Homo sapiens: one gene and its partners. The protein of the gene in region 3 interacts with the protein of the main gene of each other region in a pairwise test. Each region holds a gene or a part of one and is shown on either strand. Other genes may lie near its edges.

The links.
Region 1: the proteins of CCDC136 (region 3) and ZNF490 interact in binary tests that used the Homo sapiens proteins (3 or more experiments, as listed by UniProt).
Region 2: the proteins of CCDC136 (region 3) and ZNF230 interact in binary tests that used the Homo sapiens proteins (3 or more experiments, as listed by UniProt).

Annotation. Positions count from the first base shown.
Region 1 is NC_000019.10:12,576,134-12,579,884, forward strand, and holds part of ZNF490 (zinc finger protein 490), read right to left. Parts: 3' UTR 1-3,751. UniProt on the Homo sapiens protein: May be involved in transcriptional regulation.
Region 2 is NC_000019.10:44,005,855-44,009,605, reverse strand, and holds part of ZNF230 (zinc finger protein 230), read right to left. Parts: intron 2,596-3,751; 5' UTR 2,528-2,595; coding exon 2,513-2,527; intron 817-2,512; coding exon 690-816; intron 523-689; coding exon 436-522; intron 1-435. UniProt on the Homo sapiens protein: May be involved in transcriptional regulation.
Region 3 is NC_000007.14:128,794,869-128,798,619, reverse strand, and holds part of CCDC136 (coiled-coil domain-containing protein 136), read right to left. Parts: intron 1-3,751. UniProt on the Homo sapiens protein: May play a role in acrosome formation in spermatogenesis and in fertilization.

The DNA of each region.
Region 1 (3,751 bases), on a different chromosome or scaffold from region 3:
TATCAGAAACAAGGATATTTGCTCTCACCAGCTCCATTCAGTGTTAAGGGGGGTGCTCCCAGGGAAATCAGGCAAGAAAATGCAAGCATTCCAGCCGGGCCTGGTGGCTCAAGCCTCTAATCCCAGCACTTTGAGAGGCCGAGGCAGGCAGATCACAAGGTCAGGAGGGCGAGACCATCCTGGCCAACATGGTGAAACCCCGTCTCTACTAAAAATAAAAAAACTAGCTCGGTATGGTGGCACGCGCCTGTAATCCCAGCTACTCAGGAGGCTGAAACAGGAGAATTGCTTGAACCTGGGAGGCAGAGATTGCAGTGAGCCGAGATCATGCCACTGCAGTCCAGCTTGGTGACAGAGCGAGACTGTGTCTCAAAAAAACAACAAACAAACAAAATAACCAGCCAGGCAGAGTGGCTCACGCCTGTAATCCCAGCACTTTGGGGAGACCGAGGTGGGTGGATCACAAGGTCAGGAGATTGAGACCATCCTGGTCAACATGGTGAAACCCCATCTCTACTAAAAATACAAAAAAATTTAGCTGGTTGTGGTGGCACGCGCCTATAGTCCCAGCTACTCAGGAGGCTGAGGCAGGAGAATTGCTTGAACCTGAGAAGTGGAGGTTGCAGTGAGCCAAGATTGTGCCACTGCACTCCAGCCTGGCAACAGTGAGAATCCATCTCAAAAAAAAAAAAAAAAAAAAAAACCTAAAAGCATTCCATATTTAAAAATATATATAAATATATATACACACAGCCCTCTAGACAAATATACAAAAATCACACACGTTATCACTGTACATACAGGTGGACAGACACAAATTCACAAACCCACAGGTGTAACAGCCCAGATACTAAAAGATTCTCCCAAATAGAAGGACCCCAGGTGTTCTGATCTCTTCTCCAGGTTTCTCTGGCTCCTCGGGAATAACCACCACAGTGCCTTATATATCCTTGCTTGCTTTCGTGTCTTCCAGAATGCCAGGATCAAGGGGACAGAGATATTAGCACAGCTTTGTTGACTACACCTATTAGAGGGAGTTACACAGAGGAAAATACTTACTGAATATTAGGACTCACACAGACACATACACAAAAGGGTTTTACAAAAACATCATCATAGACCCACATATACTTGTCCTTCAAAAAGTGAATGTTCTCACTCCCATTCCTGTAGCAGAGATACCCCTTAGTTCCCCAATACCTATCACAAAAGATGGCTCCTTGAGCCCATTCTGACAGTGAAGGAATCTCGAACTTCCTGACCTCCCACAGTACAATAATCATCTCTCTACAAAAGCACAACATGGCAGCTCAAGAATGTGAAAGGACCTGAAATGGGTTGAGTAATAATGTTCCAACCCCTCATACTACCATAAATGTTCCTGGTGAGAGAAGCGAATGTTCCTGGTGAGAGAAGCGAAGGTGTGCATCTCCTGGCTCAGCCACCAGGTCCTCCACTGCATCTCCACAGTAGCCGTCACTTCCACTGAGGCCTCATCTGCCAGCAAACCTTGCTCCAGTCGGCCTCTGGACCCTAGTATCTTCACCGTGGTTTTGGATGCTGCCACCTGACCCATCCCTGCTGTTGGGGGAGGGTGGAGGCCAGAGGCCTAAAGAGTTCCGACCCGAGCGACACAAAGATCACTTCTGGGACCCACCCAGGGAGACTGTTGTTACGAGGGTGGATGGTGACCTGGTTTCCCTCAATGCTGCCACCTCCCTTCTAAAACACACTGACTTGCTAAGAAAAGGGGGGACTGACTCCAACAAAGGACAGACCCGACCCCTATCGTGCCTATGCAATTCAGAAAACGGAGAATTCGGAGGCTCCAGCAAGCAGTTTATTGGGAGTTGAGTTCACCTTGCCTTGTGATGTGAAGCAAGGTAGTTCCATGGCTTGTGAACCCTGACACCAGCACCTCCCATACACAACAGAGCTGGAGCGCTGCAGGGTGGGTCCTTTTCCAAGAAGAGCTAAGTGCTAGTCTTAGCGGGAGGCTAGGAAACCAGTCCTGGAGCAGGATGCATGTGACATGCACTGACGTGAGAAGGCCGGAGCATCATCAGTGCATATGCCGCTGAATATCTCAGGGTAGAATGTGCCAGAAAACAGGGAAAGCAAGTTAGGGGAGGTAAGAATTCTGAGTGTCCTACAGCTAAGACATGGCAGAGTGTGTCTGTGACTCCACTAGCAGTTTTGAGATTATTCTGACTGTGGTGGTTGGTGCAGGGCTGGTAACCGCAGGAGAGTGGATGCTGTGTGGTCAAGGGGTGTGTGTCCCATGATACAGGCTCTGCTTCTTCAGTCTCTCACCTCAGAGCCACCTGCGGTTGCCACAGAGAAATTCAGATGTGAATGTTTAAACAAGTGTCCAAAGTGTAGGTTTGAGATGGGAAATGGAGCTGGAGATGACCTCAAAACAGCCCTGGAATAATGCAATGCTGACAATGTCTGTGAATTAGGATGTGCATAGGCAGATCCCACTTGGGGAAAAACTGTAAGATGCGAACCTTTGTCTTAGAAGTACAGCATTCCCACAGTCTGACCCGAGGACACTGATGGAAACTTAAAAGGCAGATTCTGGGAGTCTTCTCACTTCTCTCCAGTCATGTGTGAGAGCTGAGGGCAGGCACTGCCCTAGAGGGTGTTTCCTAACTTCTGACTGGATGCCACAAAAGGCCTGCTGGGGCCCAAGTCCTTCTTCCCCATTCCTTTAATTCTTCCTACGAAGAATCTCGACAATGGTTGCAGATGTCATTGAAGATGTTCCCATATTGCTTACATTTAAGAAGGTGGCTCTCCAGTGTGGGTGGTTTCATGGTTTTAAAATGAACTGGAGGCCGGGCGCGGTGGCTCACGCCTATAATCCCAGCACTTTGGGAGGCCGAGGAGGGCGGATCACGAGGTCAGGAGATCAAGACTATCCTGGCTAACACGGTGAAACCCCGTCTCCACTAAAAATACAAAAAATGAGCCGGGCGTGGTGGCGGGCGCCTGTAGTCCCAGCTACTCGGGAGGCTGAGGCAGGAGAATGGCGTGAACCCAGGAGGCGGAGCTTGCAGTGAGCTGAGATCGCGCCACTGCACTCCAGCCTGGGCAAGGACTCCGTCTCAAAAAAAAAAAAAAAGAACTGGGGGCCGGGTGTGGTGGCTCACGCCTGTAATCCCAGCACTTTGGGAGGCCAAGGCAGGTGGATTACCTGAGGTCAGGAGTTCAAGACCAGCCTGGCCAACATGGTGAAACCCCGTCTCTACTAAAAATATAAAAATTAGTTGGGCGTGGTGGCATGTGCCTGTAATGCCAGCTACTAGGGGGCCTGAGGCAGGATTGCTTTGACCTGGGAGGCAGAGGTTGCGCCACTTTCACTCCAGCCTAGGCAACAGAGTAAGACTCCAGCTCAAAAAAAAAAAAAAAAAAAAGTAAAACGAACAATTTGGGAGGCCAAGGTGGGTGGATCATTTGAGGTCAAGAGTTTAAGATCAGCCTGGTCAACATGGTGAAACACTGTCTCTACTAAAAATATAAAAATTAGCTGGGCATGGTGGTGGGCACTTGTAATCCCAGCTACTTGGAAGGCTGAGGCAGAAGAATTGCTTGAACCCAGAGGTTACAGTGAGCCAGGATCACACCACTGCACTCCAGCCTGGGGCAACAGAGTGAGACACCATCTTGGGGTGCGGCGGGGAAAAAAAGGTTGGGTGCTGTGGCTCACACCTGTAATCCCAGCACTTTGGGAGGCCGAGGCAGGCAG
Region 2 (3,751 bases), on a different chromosome or scaffold from region 3:
TTACCAGCAACAGGGAATACAGTGTCCATGACAGGACAGAGTAACAGCAGGGAGGACAACGTGGCTGGAAAAGATGATGCAAGGGCGAGAGGACAGATGTAGTCAAGAGGCAGCAGGGGATGAAGAACAAACCTCAGGGTCTCTAAAAGCCAATAAAGAGGTTGTAACTTTAATAACATTAATAAACCATAAAGGCTTTTGGACCAAGGAGTGGAAAACTGACTTGCATTTCCCAAGGATCATTTTGGCTGCTCGGGGGAAAATAGATGTCAGGGTGGAAGGGAGGGAACAGGACCACCAGCCAGAAAGGGGTTGTAATAAACCAGGAAAGAGATTGGGCAATTTAGATCAGGGTGATATAAGTGGGCATGGTCAGAAGTAAAACAAATGGGAAAGAAAGTCATGTACAAGGACACACAGTTGCTTGCTTCTTACCTGAATTTCCTTCTCTTTGGGTTGCTGTCTCCATCATCCAAAACTTTTCTTCCCTTAGGAAGTGGAAAGGGTGGAATGGTTGATGCCCTGTGAACATGCAAAGTCATGTGCTTAATACCAATTCATTCTAGGTAATATCAAGGTAAAATTTACTGGAAATTTAAGTTCCCACTGCATACACAAACTTGAATACTCTAGGATACAAAGCCACTCCTGAGGCCTGATGTACCATTACAGAGGGTGCCTGTGCTCACCCACTGACAGCAGGTTCGTGAAGTTCTCAAGCATCACGTCTTGGTACAGCTTCCTCTGGGCAGGGTCCAGTAGCCCCAGTTCCTCCTCAGTGAAGAACACAGCCACATCCTTGAAGGTCACTGCCTCCTATAACATCAAGGATACATAACCTCAATCCTATGACCATGGACTACTGGGGGAGGAGCAGCATTGAGCAGGCGGAGAGGAGAAGTGGAGGTCAACTTATAGATTTCCCACTCATTCTGTCTGTATCCTGACAGTGATTTTCCTGAGCTCCACCAGAAGTGCAATCATGAAAAAGACCTCCTGTATTTTTACTTTGTGCACTTACTGAGTCTCCTTGTAAGTAACCCCTTAGGATTTCAAATGGTGCATCCTGGGCTACACCTATATAGGTTTCAATGAATTTTGCCAATTGCCCCAGTTGCCCCAGCAACAATGAGCAATTCAGTCTCAACCTTGTTTGATGAGGCTTATTGTCCTCCTCTCTCAGACCCAAACCCTGGATGCTATCACTTTTCTTTAGTATTTGCCAAACTAACAGGTTTTAGGTAACTATTTTCAAAGTAGCCTTGGATCCATTCTCCCCACTTTCTTGTTTATAGGTCTCAAGAATAACCATAAATGTGCTAGTTATGCAGTGTCCTTCCCAGGGAAGATAACATCTTTTTATTTTTTTTTATGCCTTCTTTGGTTCTAGTCCAATCCATAAAAGATAATATCTTGAGTTAGAGAGGAACTGCTCAGTAAGTCATGTTACCCCTGAGGCATATAGCCTGGGACAGGCTGCCTCTTGGGGTGCCTCAGCTATGGTGCAAATGGGGCAAGTGCAGTCGTGACTCCACCCACTCTAGGCAGCTTTCTTAAGCCTTGGAGGACTGGCTCACAGTGGATCATAGGCTTCTGTTGTCCCTTGCTACCTACATGTAATAAATCTGCTTTATGTAATTTGTCATACATGAGTGTGCTCTCTCATGGTAGACTCGCCAAGTCTGTAACTAGTGAACCTGTTCCATGGAATTGGTGCAGCCAGCAGGGTCCAATTTGACAGAACTCTGGACTGGCAAAGGGGGAGCACTTATATCCTGGGCAATTGGCCCAGTGCTGTGATGGCAGCCTGGGGGCGCAGGCTGGACAGCAGCTTGATGATTTATAAAGAAGACAGAATGATAAGCGGGACACAGGCCACCCCTCCACAGATGTGAGCTGGCTGCATGGATTGAGACAGAAGGACAGAATACGGAAACACAGGAGCTTGGTGTGTGATCCGCTGATTGCGACACCTTAAATAATAGCTCATTCCTGGGGCCAGAGGACTCAGGAGGTGGGTGAAGTGGGTCAGAGGGTCCCTGGAGCATCTAAGAGAAATGGAGCCAACATGCGCAATGTGGGCCTCCACAGAAAGGGGGACTAACTATCTGATGGACAAGTATGAAGAAAACCAGAAGGACATGTTATCTTGGTGTATAGAGCACTCTTGACATAAGGAACTCCATCATCAATACAAATACAGTTATGAATGTACAAGGAACAGCACAAGAAGAAAAATCAGGCTAATTTGAGAGCAAGGAGGTGAAGAAGTGGGAGCACTGTTCATTCCTACTAATTTTTCTACTCCATAATGTAACAGTAAAAAACAAAACAAAACCCAAACCAAAAACCAAATGCAAAGTCAACACAAAAGAGACAAAGGAAGCAACTGGCACACAACAGGTCCCAAATGCCCATTTCCTCCTTGAGTCTTCCCAAGACAGAGAAAAATATATGACAATATGAGCAATAAGATGGAATTTTAATAGCAAGAGAGGTGAGCTCTACTCACCTTGAATGTGGTCATTTTTCCTACTACTTTTTGGAGTCTTCAGTGTCTTGAGTAATGGAGCACAAAGGAAGGTGGAATTGTGCCTGGAAAATGCCAGAGACAGCAAAAGAGAGACATGAAATGGTGGCTGGGGAGGCTGTGTAGCAACAAGCACATGTATTATGAATGATCACAGCAGCATTATTCATACTAACCCCAAAACTGTGCACAACCAAAATGCCTTCCTCTGGGTAAATGGATAGAAAAATCATGGCATATCCATATAATGGAATCTAATTTGGAAATTAAAAGGAATGAAGTACCAACCCATGCTACAACATGCACAAACCTTGGAAACATCATAAGAGAAAGAAGCCAGTCACCAAAATCCATGGATTAGATGATTCCATTTATATGAAATGTCCGAATAGGCAAATGTATACATAGAGGAAAAGTAGGTTAGTGGTTGCTCCAGATTTGGGGTGAGAATGAGGTTTAATTGTAAATGGGCACAGAGTCCAACTGAGGGTGAAAAATAACTAAACTGAATTATGATGATGGTTACTCCACTTTACAAAGTTCCTAAAGATCACTGTACTCCTGAAATGAGTGAATGCTTTATGTAAAATATACCTCAATAGAGTTGAAAAAAAATTGCTAATCCACATGTCATTTACCTTCATAAGACTGAATTCTGAGTCCATATTGTTGGGAGATTTATACTTGAACAAACAAATGAATAAATGAAGAGAACTAGAAGTTCATCTTTAGTAGAATGCCCACTAATAATGTACCTTCCAATAAGAAACTTGAGTTTTTTTAAAAAAGGTAACTTTACAGCGGACAAATCTGAAAGGCATCATCTTGGCCAAGTGAACACAGTTGAGATCACCAGTGAAGGGACAAACCACATCATGTGAACCCTGTTATGTTGCAATAAAGAGGAAACCTCATCACTTGTGCAATATCCTTACCAACAATACATAATCTGAAACTAAACATGAAATATATCAAACTCCAAATGAACATCTTTCTCCAAAATAACTTTCCTATTAAAAAAAAAACCACCATGTTTATAAAAGACAAAGACTGTGGAATCTTTCTAGACTAAAGAAACTGTGGAATGTGACAACTAAAGACAATGCATAAACTGGACTTTGAATGGCATTGCAGGTGAAGGGTGGGGTAGGGGACACAGTCATAAGGACTTTATTTTTTTATTTTTTGAGACAGAGTCTCGCTCTGTCACCCATGCTGGAG
Region 3 (3,751 bases):
AATATGCTTTTGATGTTAGGGTTCAACTCTCTCTTAGGTGCTTCTGGCCCTAAAAAAATGGTATTGTCGGCCAAACACGGTGGCTCACACCTTTAATCCCAGCACTTTGGGAGGCTGAGGCTGGTGGATCACTTGAGATCAGGGGTTGGAGACCAGCCTGGCCAAAATGGCGAAACCCCATCTCTACTAAATATACAAAAATTAGCCGGGTGTGGTGGCTGGCATTTGTAGTCCCAGCTACTCGCGAAGCTGAGGCAGAAGAATTGCTTCAACCCAGGAGGAGGAGGTTGCAGTGGGCCAAGATCTCGCCACTGCACTCCAGCCTGGGTGACAGAGCAAGACTTCGTCTCAAAACAAACAAAAAACTCTACTGAGGAGAGAATCGCTCTGGAACCCTATTTTCGGCCGGGCGCGGTGGCTCACGCCTTTAATCCCAGCACTTTGGGAGGCAGAGGCGGGCGGATCATGAGGTCAGGAGATCGAGACCATCCTGGCTAACACAGTGAAACCCCGCCTCTACTAAAAATACAAAAAATTAGCCGGGTGTGGTGGCGGGCGCCTGTAGTCTCAGCTACTCGGGAGGCTGAGGCAGGAGAATGGCGTGAACCCGGGAGGCGGAGCTTGCAGTGAGCCGAGATCACGCCACTGCACTCCAGCCTGGGCGACACAGCGAGACTCCGTCTCAAAAAAAAAAAAAATAGAACCCTATTTTCCCAGGTAGTTCCTGCCTGCATCTCTGCTTCAATTCTGACTTTTCGCCCGTTTGAATGGAGGAACGTTCCTTCTCCAGGCAAAGGCCTTTTTTTGTACTGGATCTTTTCTTTCATTATACATGATCTAGCATTTCCTACCTTTGAAAAAAGAAAAGAAATAATCTTTTGACCCTATTTCCCTTACTTCTCTGCTTCTCTTCAAAATGACTACTGGAGTTATCGGTACTCACCTTCATCTCCCATTTCCTCTCCAAACCCAATCCAATCGGTGCCTCCATGCACTGAGATGTCTCAGGGTCCTCTCTCTTGCCAAATCCAAGACCATCTCACTTGACTTAGCAACCTGACACAGTGGATCACTGTCTCCTTGAAGCACTTTCTGCTCTGGCTTACAGGGCATGACATGCTCCAGGAGTTCCTCTCACTTTACTCTTTTGTTCATTTCTCCTTCTATACTGGACCTCTAAATACTGGAGTGTCTCTGGGACTGGACCCTTTCTCCTCTTCTGGTGTCTCTCCATGTGACTGCACCATTATTTCCCATGGATTCTAATGCCAATTATATGCTAATGACTCCAAATTTACATCTCCGGCCCTGTTTTCTCCCTGGTTCTGCCTTTATATATCCAACTGCCTCAATATATTCACTTGGATGTCCACAGTTACTTCAAACTCAACAGAGGAAAACATGTTTTAAATGGCTCCCCTAGCCCCAAAACTTACCCCTTGCCAAGTCTTTCCCAATTCAATAAACATCACCACCTTCCATCAATTTTCTCAAGGCAAAGTCATCTTTCATGTCTCTGTTATCCCCTGATCGAATTCATTAGCAAATCCCGAGGGCTTCACCTTCAAAATATATTCTGGGCCGGGCGCGGTGGCTCACGCCTGTAATCCCAGCACTTTGGGAGGCCGAGGCGGGCGGATCACGAGGTCAGGAGATCGAGACCATCCCGGCTAAAACGGTGAAACCCCGTCTCTACTAAAAATACAAAAAATTAGCCGGGCGTAGTGGCGGGCGCCTGTAGTCCCAGCTACTTGGGAGGCTGAGGCAGGAGAATGGCGTGAACCCGGGAGGCGGAGCTTGCAGTGAGCCGAGATCCCGCCACTGCACTCCAGCCTGGGCGACAGAGCGAGACTCCGTCTCAAAAAAAAAAAAAAAAAGAATATATATATATATATATTCTGAATCATCTCCATTTCTACAGCCCTAACTCAAGCGACCATCATCTCTTGACTGGACTATTGCAGTAACTTGCTGACAGGACTCACTGTTCTGAGTCACTTCCCTCCATCTTAAGTGTTTCCACTTAGTGGCCAAGTTCTCTTTTAAAAATGTAAAGCAGATCGTATCATCCCATTCCTGGCTAAGACCCTCTCCTGGCTTTCTACCACACTTAACATGAAAGCCAAACCTCTTGGCTGGCCTACAAGATCCACTGTAATCTGGCCTCTGCCTGCCTCAGAACGTTCTCTTGCCAGGGTCCTCCACGTGCACTTTGCTGCAAACACAGTGGCCTCTGTTCTGTCGCTCAAACAAATGAAGCTCATTCTCACCTCTGGGCCTTTGCAGTTGCTGTTGCTTCTGCCTGGTATGCTCCTCCCTCAGATCTTGGATGGCTGGATCCTTTTCATTATTCAGGTCTTAGCTCAAATGTCATCTTCTCAAAGATGACTTTCCTAACTGCCATATCTAAAATAAACTCCCTTCAAGACCAGCCTGGCCAACATGGTGAAACTCCATCTCTACTAAAAATACAATAATTAGCCAGGTGTGGTGGCGCATGCCTGTAATCTCAGCTACTCGGGAGGCTGAGGCACTAGAATCGCTTGAACCTGGGAGGCAGAGGTTGAAGTGAGCTGAGATTGTGCCATTGCACTCCAGCCTGGGCAACAGAGTAAGACTCTGTCTCAAAATAAAATAAAATAAACTCCCATCCCACCTCCTCTCTGTATCATATTATTATATCGTGTTCATAGCATTTATTGCCATCTGAACTTGTGTTGTTTATTTTCTGCCTCTCTCCGTTAGAATGTACTCTTCATTAGGGCAGAGATGTGGTCTGTCTCATTCACAGCTGGTCCTCCAAGTATAAAGGCACCTCATAAATAGGTGATAAATAAATTAGTCCCATTTTACAGATAAGAAATGACATCTCAGAAAGATAAGTGACTTGCCCAAGATCACACAATTTCTAAGTGGTATAGCTGGGCCCAGGAATCTAGGTCATCCCAGATCAATGCCCACACTCTTCCCTATGTGACACGTGTCCTGCCACTTTCCTCCTCTGCAAGCCCCTTCACTGACCACCCTTCCTGTATCTACCTTTGCTTACATTTTCTGTCCCCGTCTCCTCTCCTCCCCACTTACACCTCTGCTTGCTCCTGTCCAGGCCTGCTTCCTGGCCTTCCTTTTTTTTCTCCATTTATACTTTTCTTTTGGCTTGATCTCAGTTCTCCCCAGAGTCCCTGCCGTTTTCTAGGGCAGCTCCCCTAAACCTTCCGGAGGCCCACAGAAGTAACAAAAGCTGCCTCTTTATTTGGTGGTGTGGTGGAATGTGGGGCATCTGCCTTGCTGCTTCCCAGAGACAAAGGGACGTGGGTGTTGGCAAAAAGGGATTTGGGGCCCACAAGCTCAGGTCCCAGGCAGCAACAGAAGTGCTGTCATCTGTCTCTCTTAATAGGTGCAGAGAGGCCCCACCAGTCACTTCTCATTGGCTTCATGCTTTCCCATGCCATCCTTGGAGGAACCAGAAAAAGGAATCCGGCTTGGAATTCAACTTGGATCACCCACCCCTGGCACTGACCAGGAGAACAAAGGGACAGGGATGCAGTATGAAGGAGGAGGCTGAAGGGGCAAGAGGAAAGAGCCCACCAGGGACAGGAGGTGACAGGGAGGCCAAGAAATGGAAGGGGAGGACAGAAGAGCCAGGTAGATGTGCAAAGAAAGAAAACTGGGGACAGAGGAGGATGGAGAGACAAGGAGAGGAAAAGGGTGAGACTAGTAGAGGAAAATGAGGTGAAATTACTGAATTTGG